Linked DNA regions of Homo sapiens: region 1 is linked to region 2. Evidence: fine-mapped QTL for protein levels in blood plasma. A gene starts in region 2. The other region holds a variant in brackets. All regions are shown on one strand. Distances are from middle to middle.

Region 1 (4,378 bases), 66 kb after region 2:
TGGGACTACAGGCACCCGCCACCACGCCTGGCTAATTTTTTTGTATTTTCAGTGGAGACGGGGTTTCACCGTGTTAGCAAGGATGGTCTCGATCTTCTGACCTCGTGATCCGCCGGTCTTGGCCTCCCAAAGTGCTGGGATTACAGGCGTGAGCCACCGCGCCCGGCCAATTTTTGTATTTTTAGTAGAGACAGGATTTCACCATGTTGGCCAGGCTGGTCTCAAACTCATGGCCTCAAGTGAGCCTCCCGCCTTGGCGTCCCAAAGTGCTGGGATTACAAGCATGAGCCACAATGCCTGGCCACCTGTTGGGTACTTCAGATTGGGTTGGTCACCATTTTTAAAACAATTACTTTTTTTTTGAGACAGGGTCTCGCTTTATCACCCAGGCTGGAGTGCAGTGACACAATCATGGCTCACTGCAGCCTCAACCTTCTGGACTCAAGTGATCCTTCCACCTCAGCCTTCCAAGTAGCTGGGAGTACAGCTGTGCACCACCATGCCTGGCGAATTTTTAAAAATTTTTTGTAGAGATTGGGTCTCACTATATTGCCCAGGCTGGTCTGGACCTCCTGGGCTCAAGTGATCCGCCCACCTCAGCCTCCATCTCCCAGGTTCAAGCGATTCTCCTGCCTCAGCCTCCCAAGTAGTTGGGATTACAGGTGCGTGCCACCATGTCCAGCTAATTTTTGTATTTTTAGTAGAGATGGGGTTTCACCATATTGGCCAGGCTGGTCTTGAAGTCCTGACTTCAAATGATCCACCCACCTTGGCCTCCCAAAGTGCTAGGATTACAGACGTGAGTCACCGCACCCGGCCTCTTTTTGTTTTGTTTTGTTTTTTTTGTTTTTTTTTTTTTTTTTGAGACAAGGTCTTGCTCTGCTGCCCAGGTTGGAGGGCAGTGGCACAATCATACCTCACTGCAGCCTCAACCTCCCCAGTTCAAGTGATCCTCCCACCTCAGTCTCCAGGGTAGCTGAGACTACAGGCGCACACCACCATGCCTGGCTAATTTTTGATTTTTTGTAGAGAAGGGGTCTCACTATGTTGTCCAGGCTGGTGGCTGGCAGCCTGCTTTCTCTCTCTCTCTCTTGTTTTTTTCTTTTTGAGACAGGGTCTTACTCTGTCACCCAGGCTGGAGTGCAGTGGCACAATCTTGGCTCACTGCAACCTCCACTTCCTGGGGCTTGAGTGCTCCTCCCACCTCAGCCTCCCGAGTAGCTGGGACTACAGGTGCATGCCACCATGCCCAGCTAATTTTTTGTATTTTTAGCATGTTGGCCAGGCTGGTCTCGAACACCTGAGTTCAGGTCATCTGCCCGCTTTGGCCTCTCAAAGTGCTGGGATTATAGGTGTGAGCCACCGCACCCGGCCCCATTTTTCAATTAATGGCACCATGAGCCACCTAGTTGCCCAAAGCAAAAATCTAGAGCTACTCTCTTCAATACGGCAGCCACTAATCATATGTGGCTATTTAAGTTTAAATTAAATTAAAATGGGCTGGGCGTGGTGGCTTATGCCTGTAATCCCAGCATTTTGGGAGGCCGAGGCAGGCGGATCACGAGGTCAGGAGTTCGAGAAAAGCCTGGCCAACATAGTGAAACCCTTTAATCTACTAAAAATACAAAAATTAGCCAGGCATGGTGGCAGGCACCTGTAATCCCAGCTACTTGGAAGGCTGAGTCAGGAGAATTGCTTGAACGTGGGAGGTGGAGGTTGCAGTGAGCTGAGATCGCGCCATTGCACTCCACCCTGGGTGACAGAGCGAGACTGTCTCAAAAAAAAAAAAAGAAAGAAAGAAAGAAGAAGGAAAGAAAAAGAAAAGGAAAGGAAAAGGGGAGACTAAAGGAGGAGTAGGTTAGGGCAGGGCCTAACCTACTGGGCCATG[GACCAGTA/A]CCTGTCTGTGGCCTGTTAGGAACCAGGCCACGCAGCAGGAAGTAAGTGGTGGGCAAATGAGCAAAGCTGCATCTGTATTTACAGCCACTACCCATTGCTCCCATTACCGCCTGAGCTCTGCCTCCTCTCAGATCCGCAACAGCATTAGATTCTCATAGGAGCACGAACCCTATTGTAAACTGCGCATGCAAGGGATCTAGGTCATGCACTCCTTATAAGAATCTAATGCTTGATGACCTGTCACTGTCTCCCATCACCCCCAGATGGGACCGTCTAGTTGCGAGAAAACAAGCTCAGGGCTCCCACTAATTCCACATGATGGTGAGTTGTATAATTATTTTGTTATACATTACAATGTAATAATAATAGAAATAAAGTGCACAGGCCAGGCGCGGTGGCTCACGCCTCTAATCCCAGCACTTTGGGAGCTGAGGTAGGCAGATCACGAGGTCAGGAAATCGAGACCATCCTGGCCAACATGGTGAAACCTCGTCTCTACTAAAAATACAAAACTTAGCTGGCCATGGTGGCACGTGCCTGTAATCCCAGCTACTTGGGAGGCTGAGGCAGGAGAATCGCTTGAACCCAGGAGGTGGAGGTTGCAGTGAGCCAAGATCGTGCCACTGCACTCCAGCCTGGTGACAGAGCGAGACTCCGTTTAAAAAAAAAAAAGTGCACAATAAACTTAATGTGCTCAGATCATCCCAAAATCATCCCCCAACTCCCACCCGCCGGTTAGTGGAAAAATTATCTTCCTGGTCCGTGGTGCCAAAACGGTTGGGGACTGCTGGGTTAGGGGGTGCTGATAGGCAGAAATCAGTAGCTTGGTTTTGGACATGTTGATTTGAGATCCTTGTGAGGCATCCAGTGGGCTGATAAGCAGGCAGGTGGATATGTATAGACTGGATTTCCAGGCCAGGCCAGAGCTGGAAATGTAGGTTTAGGAGTCATCGCTTAGAGCCATGGGACTGGTTGCTTAGGTACAGCATGTAGAGAGAGACTAGAAGCAGGCCCAGAAGTAAACCCTAGGCACCCAATGTGTACTTTGTTCCTTTTCTCCAGTTATCACAGCCACATGCATTTCAACATCCCTAAAAAAAGGCAACACCAGACCGGGTGCAGTGGCTCATGCCTGTAATCCCAGCACTTTGGGAGGCCGAGGGGGGTGGATCACCTGAGGTCAGGAATTTGAGACCAGCCTGGCTAACATGGTGAAACCCCGTTTCTACTAAAAAATACACAAAATTAGCTGGGCATGGTGGCGCATGCCTGTAATCCCAGCTACTCAGGAGGCTGAGGCAGAATCGCCTGAACCCAGAAGTTGGAGGTTGCAGTGAGCTGAGATCGCACCATTGCACTCCAGCTTGGGCAACAAGAGCAAAACTCCATCTCAAAAAAAAAAAAATACAAAAATCAGCTCGGTGTGATGGCGCATGCCCGTAATCCCAGCTACTCAGGAGGCTGAGGCACAAGAATTGCTTGAACCTGGAAGGCAGAGGTTGCAGTGAGCCAAGATTGCATAGCTCCAGCCCAGGTGACAGAGCGGGACTCTATCCCCCTCACCCCCCTCTTCAAAAAAAAAGAAGGCAATACCGTCACATCCAGATATGCAGATGGGGCATCTCAGCCTACTAAACATTCCTTCTGAATTGCAGAGTTCACAATTTCCAAGTGCTGCCCATGCCTCCTCTAGCTTCTCATTAGCCAAGGGTTATTTCTTTTTTCTTTTCTTTTCTTTTCTTTTTGAGATGGAGTCTCACTCTGTTGCCCAGGTTGGAGTGCGGTGGCACAATCTCGGCTCACTGCAACCTCCGCCTCCTGGGTTCAAGCGATTCTCCTGCCTCAGCCTCATGAGTAGCTGGGACCACAGGCGCATGCCACCATGCCCGGCTAATTTTTTGTACTTTTAGTTGAGACAAGGTTTCACCATGTTAGCTAGGATGGTCTCGATCTGCTGATCTCATGATCAGCCCACCTCGGCCTCCCAAAGTTCTGCTATACAGGCGTGAGCCACCGTGCTCAGCATTTTTTTTTTTTTTGAGATAGAGTTTCACTCTTGTTGCCTAGGTTGAGTACAATGGTGCGATCTCGACTCACTGCAGCCTCCGCCTCCCAGGTTCAAGAAATTCTCTTGCCTCAGCCTCCCTAGTAGCTGGGATTACAGGCGCCCACCACCACACCCGGCTAATTTTTTGTATTTTTAGTAGAGACGGGGTTTCACCATGTTGGCCAGGCTGGTCACGAACTCCTGGCCTCAGGTGATCCACCCGCCTCAGCCTCCCAAAGTGCTGGAATTACAGGCGTGAGCCACCGTGCCCAGCTGAGCCAAGGGTTATTTCTTATCATCTTGCAACTTTGAGCAAATTGGTAAATTTAACTACCACCAATAGTGAGTGAAAAAAATTAGAACGTTCATGTAGATAGTGATGGTTTTCTGCTGATTTTTGCCACTGGGTGTGGTGGTGTGAGGGCCGTTGAGGAG
Region 2 (4,318 bases):
GTTGGGGAACCCCTCACTTGCCACGTAACCTGATTCCCCCTTCACATCCCCTCCGCACAGGAACACGGGTCTGGAGAACAGAAAAGGGGTCAGGAAAGAGCAGGGACGGGTGGGACGGGGGAGCACTGGCAAGATGGGGATGAGGTGATGAGGATGAAACTCCAAGGAGGGAAGCTGGGGGATGAAATGGAAAGGCCTTGAGAGACCTGGGGCAGCTTCCACCAGCCAGGACAGGGCTGGGGTGTCCCAGACTCCCACAAAGATAAGGGAAAAGTGGGCCTGGCAACTCGACCATCCCTCCAACCCCAAGAGTCCCCACCCCCACCCCAACAGGAATTCCCGGAATCCTCCTCGGCCCCCCTTCCAGACTCCCGCCTCACTCTGCCTGGCAGTCCAGGGACAGGAGCCGCCTAACTACTTCCAGATGTGGACACAGCCACGAGGCGGTGGGGGGGAGGGGGTGGAGAGATGGAGGGAGCTGCAGTGGCGATGGCCCTCTGATTGAACCTGGAGGCCAGGCTCCGCGAGCTCCACACCTTAGCCCTGCCCCTGTTCCAAACTACTTCAGATTCTGACTCCCAAGTCTCCACTCACTGCCCCCTCCTCCCCCTACAATCCCTCTCGAATTCCTTCCTGGAATCCAGCTACCAGGCAAGTTCAGGAGCTTGGCTCTCTCTTGGGTTCTATGGGGGGTCAAGGATCTGGGTGGGTGGGGAGACTTAAGAGACCAGAGGACGAAGGTGGGGGAATGGGAGCAGTGGTGGCCTGCAGGAGACCAAGGTCTTGCAGCAGATGGGGAGGATTTGGGGGCCAGAGAAGGGTGAGGCGGTGGGGAATCTGGGGAGTGGTGTGTCAGCAAGGGAACCCAAAATATCTCCAGGCATAACCCCAAAGGAATCGGGGGTCTGAAGTTCACTGGAGCTGTCTGGAAGATGCCAAGAGACCTACCTGGTGTAGTTGGGGGTCTGGCCCTGGGCAAAAGGCAGCAGGGCGCAGGCAGTGAGGAGGGGCCCCAGGAGGGAGGCTGTGGCTGCAGGCAGCATGGCCCCGGGGGAAAGGCGCTGGGGTCCTCAAGACAGAGGCAGCAGCTGAATTTTGCAGAGCAGCAGCAGCGGTGGCGGCAGCAGCAGGATAATCAGCGCCAGATGGGGCAGCCTTGGGTGTGTGGGCGTGGGGACTGGCCAGTGGGGCGGGCAATGGGGAAGGCGGGACAGTGGCGTGTCCTGGGACCTCTCTAGGTCTAGGACACATAAATGTTGACCTTAGGAGGGGGAGGAGCAGTGAGGGGCAGAGGCCGTCTCCCAGGCCTCAAGTAACGTCATCGGGAACCCCACTCTGTCCAGTGAGGGAGTATCTCCGGGAACTTCTGAGGACTCCCTAGCCCCCATCCTCCCCCCGCCCCTGCTTCCTCAGCTCAGGAGCCCTCATTGCTCACCCCCTGCCTGACCACCCCTGCCAGCTCATTTTCCACTTCAATTTCTTTTTTTTTTTTTTTTTTTTTTTGAGACAGAGTCTCATTCTGTGACCCAGGCTGGAGTGCAGTGGCGCGATCTCTGCTCACTGCAACCTCCGCCTCCCGGGTTCAAGCAATTCTTGTGCCTTAGCCTCCCGAGTAGCTGGGACTGCAGGTGCATGCCTCCACACCTGGCTAATTTTTGTATTTTTAGTAGAGGCAGGGTTTCAGCATGCTGTCCAGGCTGGTCTCAAATTCCTAGCCTCAGGTGATCCGCCCACCTCGGACTCCCAAAGTGCTGGGATTATAGGCGTAGCCACCACACCTGGCCTCCACTTCACATCTCCATTGCCTTCTCTCCAGACCTGGGCCAGACTAGGCCAAGGAGAAGGAATTCTCACCCATGACCTCTTCCAACTACTTGAAGGTACAGGAAGCAAGGCAGGAGGCATGGGGTGTGGATGAAGGGAGTGTCCTTGTTACTCAGGAAGAGGTGGAAGGAGTAGAAAATAGAGCCCAAACCTGGGAGGTAAACAGAAGGGAGAGAGGAGGGGGGCTGGCTTCAGGCCGAAGGGAGATGGGTGGGAAGCTTTCGGGGGTCAGGAGGAACAGGCTGCCTCAGGATGGGGACAAGTCTAGTGGGCAGGGGATCCCAGTGGGGTAGCCAAGAGCATCTGTGCATAGAGTTGTTCCAGAAGGTAGGGCCAGAACTTCCCAGTCCAAACGACCAGGTGTGCTCTTGGGAGCAGGGAGTGGACAACAATGTGAAGGGTTCAGGCAGCATCAGCTCTGCTGCACCTGAGACCTGGAGCTGCTTGTGCTGCCTGCCCCTGCCTGGGCTCCTGCCCTCCTGCACCCACCAAGCCGGGCACCCACCCACCCCATCCCTGCCCCTGTCCCTCCCAGCCCCCAAGGCTTCCACACCAGGCCTCGCTGCAGCCTTTTATTCTATCCATCAAATCTCTTGTCCATGATAGTCAGGTTGGGGGCCCCTCCTGGGCAGCCCCCTGAACATTCTTACCCTGGTTAGCCGTCCCCACCCCCTAGCAACCCCTTCCCACACGCATGTGCACAATGGTCATTGCTCCTTAGTCCCTGGCCTGGGGCCGGACTCCCTCCTCCAGGGACTAGGCTAGCATGAGGGGGATTAGGTCTCAGGGGCTGGGGGCCCTACACCACCCCCGCCTCCTTCAGCCCTCTGCAGCATGTCCAGGGCCTCCCAGAAGAAGTCCTTCTGTGCGGCCATCAGGGGCATCCACCCTACGATCTCCTTCATCTTCTCCGTGCGGTCCTGCAACGTTTGGCAACTGTGGATCTGGCTGAGGTACTCCTCGCAGGCCTGGGCCATCCCCCCGGGGTCCTGGGGTGCTCTGGCCCCCAGGCTGGGCTCAGGAGTCCCCACCACCCTGCTGGCTGGCAGGTGGCGATAGGGGGCGTGCTGCTCAATGTCGTGGCTGGACAGGATGTATAGGCACTCCCTGGTGGCACAGAGGGCACAGGCACACAGAGGGACCTTGGAGGAGGAGAGAAAGGGGGCATGGCTGAGTGGTGCTTTCCTTGCAGGGTTTCCCAGGGTGCCCGGGCTAATCTGCCTATTGCATTCTTCCCTCTCACACCAGCCCTGAGCCGGCTAAGTCCCAGGGGTGTGTGAGGTTGGGCAAGGCCAGCACAGTCTGCTAAGGGAGAAAGCAGAGAGCGTGGTGTGCGGCAGAGGAGGGAGGTGGGGTGGTGCTAGGGAAATGGGACCCCCTGGGTCCCTGCAGGAGCCCCAGCTACAGCCTGTGGGCTTCCTGGTTCATGGCTCTCATCCTCCCTGGGTGCCCACTCTCCTGACCCCGCTCTGACCTTGACTTGGAGCTTGACGAAGGAGGCACTCCCCTTGGGCCAGCCTGGGAGGCGGCCCCCAGCCCCACAGCCGCAGCCCAGCAGCTCCTTGCTGAACTCTGAGCTCTGGCTCAGCACCAGGGAGTGGTTGAGGCCGCACCACAGGGTGATGGGCCGCTGCAGGTAACAAACCTGGGGACACACGGCCAGGGTCCCTGAGCAGGGAGCACCAAGGGACGGGGGGGCTGGGGTGGGAAAAGGTTGACTGGAAGGCTCGGGGCAGAATGAACTGGGGAGGAGGAAATGGGAGCCAGCACTGTCCCACGCCCCAGGTCTGCCCTGCTGACCCCTGCAGCCCCCATACTCTAACTGGTCACATAGGGTCTTGCACTTCTGTTGGTATCTCATCTATGCCCCCAGAAAATCAGCTCCTTGCCTGAGCCCAGGGCCTGCTGTGGTGTACCCCTCATTCTCAGCCCACCCGTCTATGCCAGTCCAGCCTCTCATCCTGCCTGCCAGCCTCGGGGAGACTTGCTTCTTGTGCAATTCCAGGTTAGACCCCAACACCACCCTGAGGAAGGACTTTCCCTTCCACTATCCCTCCCTTCCTGCTCTAGTATTATCTTTTCTTTCTTTCTTTCTTTTTTTTTTTTTTGTTTGAGACAGAGTCGGAAGGCTGGAGTGCAGCAGTGCGATCTCGGCTCACTGCAACCTCTGCCTTCCTGGGTTCAAGTGATTCTCCCACCTCAGCCTCCCAAGTAGCTAGGACTACAGGTCCTTGCCACCACACCCATCTAATTTTTGTATTTTTAGTAGAGAAGGGGTTTTGCCATGTTGACCAGGCTGGTCTCGAACTCCTGACCTCAGGTGATCTGCCTGCCTTGGCCTCCCAAAGTGCTGGGATTACAGGCATGAACCACTGAGCCCAGCCTCCACTCTAGCATTTTTATTTTCTCTTTTCTTTTTTTAGAGATGGGGTCTCATTCTGTTGCCCAGGCTGAAATGCAGTGGTGCAATCATAGCTCACTGCAGCCTTGACCT

Direction of the effects. Alleles are on the strand shown, and positions count from the first base shown. The strength of an association depends on the size of the effect and on how common the allele is.
With allele A in place of GACCAGTA in region 1, the plasma level of the protein whose gene starts at base 1,137 in region 2 is lower (moderate association).

The links. A credible set is the group of variants that fine-mapping cannot tell apart. PIP is the posterior inclusion probability: the model's chance that the variant is causal. The UK Biobank Pharma Proteomics Project read protein levels with antibody pairs (Olink). The fine-mapping took linkage between variants from a reference panel, not from the people measured, so its PIPs are less certain.
Region 1: its variant is the best candidate, but not a certain one, in a credible set for the plasma level of the PCOLCE protein (UK Biobank, PIP 0.60).

The regions. Positions count from the first base shown.
Region 1 is chr7:100,533,540-100,537,917 of GRCh38, reverse strand. No RefSeq gene overlaps it. Among named protein-coding and RNA genes, the nearest start is that of AGFG2, 3.5 kb to the left of the region's middle. RefSeq lists a cis regulatory region at 4,241-4,378. The variant GACCAGTA/A (reference allele first, on the strand shown) is at 1,889.
Region 2 is chr7:100,599,182-100,603,499 of GRCh38, reverse strand. It overlaps PCOLCE (procollagen C-endopeptidase enhancer), which reads right to left and starts at 1,137. Exons shown (of 9, transcript NM_002593.4): 1 at 949-1,137; 2 at 1-70. The coding sequence starts at 1,043. It overlaps FBXO24 (F-box protein 24), which reads right to left. Exons shown (of 10, transcript NM_033506.3): 9 at 3,299-3,469; 10 at 2,383-2,966. The coding sequence ends at 2,601. PCOLCE-AS1 (PCOLCE antisense RNA 1) reads left to right here. Exons shown (of 9, transcript NR_038910.1): 2 at 334-1,160; 3 at 1,817-1,880; 4 at 2,648-2,777; 5 at 3,311-3,460; 6 at 3,698-3,829. RefSeq lists an enhancer at 1-28.